2 separate regions of the Homo sapiens genome follow, and region 2 is linked to region 1. The links come from fine-mapping of genetic effects on gene expression. A gene starts in region 1. The other region holds a variant in brackets. All regions are shown on one strand. Distances are between the middles of the regions. Region 1 holds the start of MTA1-DT (MTA1 divergent transcript). Region 2 overlaps MTA1 (metastasis associated 1).

The links. PIP is the estimated chance that this variant, and not a neighbour inherited with it, causes the effect. A credible set is the group of variants that fine-mapping cannot tell apart.
Region 2: its variant is the best candidate, but not a certain one, in a credible set for the expression of MTA1-DT in fibroblasts (GTEx, PIP 0.71).

What each region holds. Positions count from the first base shown.
Region 1 is chr14:105,418,091-105,420,982 of GRCh38, forward strand. It overlaps MTA1-DT (MTA1 divergent transcript), which reads right to left and starts at 1,649. Exons shown (of 2, transcript NR_125385.1): 1 at 932-1,649; 2 at 1-219. MTA1 (metastasis associated 1) reads left to right here and starts at 1,737. Exons shown (of 21, transcript NM_004689.4): 1 at 1,737-1,973. The coding sequence starts at 1,946. RefSeq lists an enhancer at 1-603 and silencers at 1,301-1,400, 1,431-1,480, 1,571-1,830.
Region 2 is chr14:105,438,499-105,441,390 of GRCh38, forward strand. MTA1 (metastasis associated 1) reads left to right here. Exons shown (of 21, transcript NM_004689.4): 2 at 174-241. Among named protein-coding and RNA genes, the nearest start is that of MTA1, 20 kb to the left of the region's middle. The variant A/C (reference allele first, on the strand shown) is at 1,687.

The sequences.
Region 1 (2,892 bases):
TGCATGTCACTGTCAGGATGTGTCCCAGTGGTGTGGCTGGGTTCTCAGGGTGAAGCTCGTCCATTTCTGGGATGGCAGCGGAAGCAGGCACTACACACGCAGCTTCAGGGGGCTCTCCCCATGCTTCCTAGCTGCCTGGCACTTTCTGGTGTTTCTGGCTAACTTTCTGGCCATGCCAGGAGTTGGTGGAAGGAGATCTCAGGCTGCAGCTTTGCTTTCCTGCTGAGGAGACAGAGGTAGGCTGGGGCTGTAGGACAGGGGAGGCCAGCAGCCCCACCTTCCTTCTGGAGAGACGCTGCCTGTCTGTCATTGCCCCTCTCCTGCACCTGGCCGCTGGCTGGCTGCTCTTCCCTCCCAATCACCAGCAAGCCAGCTCCTGTTCCCTGCAGCCCAGCCCGCAGGATGTGTCCTGGGACCCATAGCCCTCTCTCCCCAGAGACAGCACCGCCCTGCAGCTCGGGTTCCTGGCCCTGTGCTAACCCTGGTGGGGCTTTCCTTACTGGTCTGCTCTGCAGCCATGACATTGTGGCCACCGCTCTCCTTGGGACCCCCACCTGGCTTTCCTCCCAGCACATGCTGTTTCCTACCCACCTGGATGGTGTCCTGTGTGCTGGATTCCCCATGCTGTGTCCCCAGCATCCTGACCATGTCTGTCCCGCCTGCCTAGATCTTGCACCGTGGCCACGGGGCTCCCTCCTGATAGCCCTGAACGCTCCGCTCCATGTCCTACAGAGAGGGATGTCCCAAGTAGATGTCAGCTCCCTCCAGCATCTGAGCAGGCAGGACAGAGACCCACGGTGCTGCTCACATCAGCAGCCTGGAACCCCGAGACAGCTCCTTTTGCTCACCTCCCCCAACACTGATGTTGCACCTGTCTCCAAGCCACTCTGGGACCATCTGTTTCTCTCCATCTGGGAAGCCCCCTTCGCACCTCATGCTCTTCCTGGCTGGGGCGTCTGGGTCACTCACTGGACTCTCCTCTCCTTAGACCTGTGCACAAGCACACACGGGAAGGCATCCTGACAGGTGGTGGGAAGAGAAGGCAGCTGCCTCACTGCGGAAAGAGCACGGCCGCTCCTGGACTCCAGCCCTGTTGGGGCTGGCGGGGTCAGCAGGCGCTGGGTTCCAGCCTCAGGTGGGGTCTTTGGAGGTGGCCTCTGGGCACAGGCACCTCCTCTGCGGCCTTCTCACCAGGTCACGGTTCAGGGAGGCTTTGCCGGCTACGGAGCCTGCCCACACCAAGGCGCGCACGACCACCTGTCCAGAGATGCCACGCGGGCTGGGCGGCGAAGGCCAAGGACACGCCCTGCCTGGTGTCGGGGGCAAAGGTTAGGCCTGGAAGGGAGGTGTGGGGTGGGGACCCCGAGGCCAGGGCTGGGCCGCTGAGCTTCAGGGCCCTTGGGGGGCTCAGGGAGGAATGCCGGAGGACCCCAGCATCAGGAGGAACCCCTGGAGAGCTACGGCAGGACTCACCTGTGGGGCACAGGGAGGGATCACCAGGGAAATGGCCCTTGTGGAGGATCTCCCCTCTACCCCCAGGGCACCAGGGGAGGATCTACCAGGGGGTTCTGGTGGAAGGGCCCACCCGGGAAGCGGCGCGCGGGGAGGACTCGGGGGCGCCGAGAGGAACTGTCCGGGAAGGGGCGCGCGGGCCGCGGGCGGCGCGGGGTCGGTAACGGCCCGTGCGGTGGGCGGCGGCGCCCGAGGCCCCTCCCCGCCGCCCGCGGCCGCTCCTCCTCTTCCTCTCCCGCCCGCGCCGCGGCCCTCCCGTCCCTGCGCGGCCTCGGCGGCCTCGGCGGCGGCGGCGGCGGCGGCGGCGGCAGCAGCGCGGCCCCTTTAAACGCCTGCGGCGCCCCCCGCCCCCGCCATCGCGCCTCCATTTTCCCGGCCGCCCGCGCCGAGCGCCGCGCCCGCCCCGGGCCCCTCCGCCGCCGCCGGCCCGGACATGGCCGCCAACATGTACAGGGTCGGAGGTAAGGCCGCACCGCCTTTATGCCCGGCCCCGACCCGCCCGCAGCCCCCACCCGCCGCCGCTGCCGCCTCCCCCGCCCCTCTGCCCCGCAGGCCCCGCGCCCCCCGCCCGCCCTCGCGGCCCCCGGCTCCTTCCCGAACCGCCCCCCGCCGTGCTCACCCCAACCCAAAATGGCCCCGCGGGTCGGCCCCATCGGGGGCGGGCGGGGCTCGGCGGCCCGGGGGTGGGGGGCGGCCCACCTGTTGGGGCCGAGGGGGCGGCCGCGGGGGTGGCGGGGGGGCGCGGGGCCTGCGGGACATCCGGGGGTCCGGGGCCGGGAGCCCCCAGCGGGAGCACGTGGCCTTGGGAGGCGCCGGCTGCCGGTCTGGGAGCAGGAGTTTTGGGGCTGTGGGGTCTCCCCCGGCCCGCGGCCCTGTGCTGGGACTCCGGTGCATCCCCTCTGGGGATGGGGAGCCCCGGTGAGGGGCCACGTTCCTCCCTAGAGCCCTCCTGCAGCCTGGCCCCGGGGCTTCCCCCAGCAGGGATCCCTCAGGGGGTCTTCAGCAGGGAGCGAGCATCCCGAGCACGCCTCTAAGTCCCCCCAAACTTTTCCCTGCCTCTCGCTCACCTCAGCCCATTCGGGAGGCGCTTTGCAAGGGTTGGGGAGAGGCCGGAGGGCCTCCTGGGCAGGGGCTTCCTCCGTGGGCCCAGCCTCCTGTTGCTCGGGCCCCCCGGGCCTGCAGCTTTGAGCCTTGCCCTCCTTCGTGTGCCTGGGACTCCGTGGGGTCTTTCACAGGAAGGTGGGGGGTCGTGTGCATTCCATCATTCCATCAGCGCCTCCCTCCCCAGGACTCTGAGACCCCTCCCTGCCTGTGACCCTCTCGGGCAGGTGCTCATTACCTTTCCCACCTGCAGCCTGCGCTGCTGGAGGGAGCTGGGGT
Region 2 (2,892 bases), 20 kb after region 1:
CCCCTCCCTGATGGTGTGGGGGCTTCGCTTCCTCTGTTTATTCCTCGCCTGAGGGAGCAGAGGTGAGGGGATGACACTGCCCCGCCTGAGCCCCGAGTCCCTGGGCCACGGGAGGTGGGACTGGGTCTGGCCTTTGGTGCCACAGGTGGCACTCTCTCTGTTGCTGTTTGCAGACTACGTCTACTTTGAGAACTCCTCCAGCAACCCATACCTGATCCGGAGAATCGAGGAGCTCAACAAGGTACTGGGGGGCCCTGGTGTTGCTGCAGGGGGGTAGTGGGTGGGGGCTACGCCAGCTCCTGCCCTGTGGGTGGCCAGTGTGGGTGGCCCCCTTTCGGGGCTGATCTTGGACTGGCCACTGCACAGGCCCTTCAGTGACTCCGTCCACTGTCACCTGCACCGTGGCTCCTCCTTGGAGATACTGAGTGAGGGGCCTGGTGGCCTCATGCAGGACCCAGCGCAGCTGCCCTGAGCTGCCTGCCCACTCTACACTTGGTCTGTGGGTGCTGGGTCCCCTGAAGATGCCAGTGTCCCCTGGGGAGCCCGAGCGGAATGGTGTGATTCTGAAACCAACCAAAGGCTGCAGAAAGCCATACTCGGTGCCCCTGCCCTGCCCGAACCCTGGCAGCCAGCCCTGCAGGGCTGTGAGCTCTGCCCCCACCCCTGAGGTGTCTGCATGGCTGGAAGCACCCTCCCTGGTCACTCAGGCAGCCCTGCAGGGCTGTGAGCTCTGCCCCCAACCCTGAGGTGTCTGCGTGGCTGGAAGCGCCCTCCCTGGTCACTCAGGCAGCCCTTGCTCCCACCTGGTTTGTGTCTGCCATGAGTCCTTGGCAGTTGCTTGCTGTTTGGTCGGGGGACGTGGTTGTGCCCATGCATTGAGCCTGGCAGCACCAGATCCTTCCTGGGGGGTGGTGACACATGGGCCCCTCAGCCCCAGCCACTCCTGGCCTCCACTGCCTCGGCACAGCCTCCGTCCCATCAGCTCGGGAGACAGAGCCGTAGATGGCCATGGAGGTGTAGGGCGCCCGCACACCCTGGGAGCCTTCTCGCTGTCCTCAGGGGTGGTGGGTGGGTCCCCCAGCGTCCCTTCTCCTCCTCCTGGTTGGAGACTTTCTAAGGGTGTTGAGGGAGGGCAGGTTGTCCCCACCAGTGGACACATGGTTCCAGCAGAGAGTGGGGTGGGGTGCTGGGTGCTTCACAGACCTCTCTGTGCCTGCCTGCAGGGCTCCTGAGCCCCCGATCCCCTGGAGCCAGTGGCCCGATGGCTGCCTTCTCCTAGGAGCCCTGCCCACTCGGCAGGCCTGGGGCACTCGGGCCCTTGGTGTTCCATCTGGATGCTGCAGGCTCACCTGGGAGAAGCTGCCTTCCTGGACCTCAGGCTTGGTGGCAGCGGTGACGTGGGGTTCTTGGGATCAGAGGGGGCAGCGGGGGGAAGGTTAGCGCGCCACCTCTGACGTAGCCATGCTGGGCTCCGGGCTTCCCTGGCTGCGCTTGTCGAGGGCCATTCCCTGCGGTATCTGCCACCACCTGGGGCCGAGGAGCATGGGGTGCGACATCTGCTCCCCCGCAGCTTCCTGGGAGGTCTGAGGGCCAGGCCTGTTTGTTGGAGGCACAGGCAATGACCTGGGTGTCTTCTGAGTCTGCCTCACTGCCCCTGCTGGGCAGGGCCTGCCCGCCTGCAGAGCA[A/C]GGCCACTTGGGTACTGCCGGAATGGGGCGCCACTCCTGTGGCTGAGCCTCCTGAGTGCGGGGCAGCACTTTACGCATCCCAGCATGTGGACTGTAGGGAAACAGGTGCAGAGGGAGGTTCCTCAGCTGACGCTGAACCATGGCTGGGGGAGGTCCTGTGTCCCTCCTGGTCTGTGTAGTGGAGGGGCGGCCGGCAGATGGCACTGCTGGCCCCACACAGCCAGCTGGCAGGCAACCCGGGGCGGGAGGCTGCAGTGCCTCCGTGGGCGCCTGGCCGAGTGCCACTGCTGGGAGGTGCCACTGTCAGGAAGGTTCCCTCGTGCTGCTTCCGGCTTCCATGTGCAGACAGTAGATTGCAGGCGTGTGCAGGCAGGGGGCTGGCTTCCAGCCCTTGGGCGATGTTCAGTTACACATGTAGCATTGCACACGCTCAGAGGCGTCCCCTTCGTCCTAGGACTCCCTCCTCCTCAGGGCCAGGGCCACATGGCGTGGGCACTTGCCTGTCTCTGGGCGGGACACCAGCCTGTGAGGGGCACGACTACTCTCTTGGACTGTTCAGGCAGGGCAGCCGAGCCAGACGCTCACCATGTGGAAAAGAACCCGCAGGCCTGCGACAGAGTGCGGCCAGTGCCCTCCACGCCAAGGAGCTCCAGGCGGGGCTTCCAGGTGGGCGCAGCTGGTTGAGTACAGACCTCCCCTCTGTTCCCTGGACTGAACGCCCCCTCAAATAACAAGAAAGTGGTGCTGGGGCTCTGCACCCACAGGGCAAGGAAGGTGGGAGAGGCGGTGCCACTGGGAGGTATGGGCACAGCTTGGAAGGCAGCCAGGCAGACTGGGCAACCTGAGAGGCCCTGGCCCTGGCCTGGGTCAGGATGGGGAGAACAGGAACCATGGTGACATGTGGCTGGCAGCGCGGAAGGCCTGTCTGGGGGGTCAGGTGGTCCCACAGAGCCCTTCCCTGGGCTGGAGCAGTGGACTCAGAGGACCCAGATTTGGGGCACCAGACCCAGGCCAGCACAGTTCGTGCGGGGGCTGGAAGTGGGGATCGCCTGGCTCATGGCCTGTCCCCTGGTGGGCCCCCCCGCCCCTCTTGCCTCCTTGGCTCCCAGGACCCTAGCGGCCAGACTTCTAAAGCCCACAGACCCAGCTGCTGGCATCGGGGACCCAGCAGAATGCCCGCTACCCCAGCACCCATGGGTGCAGCCC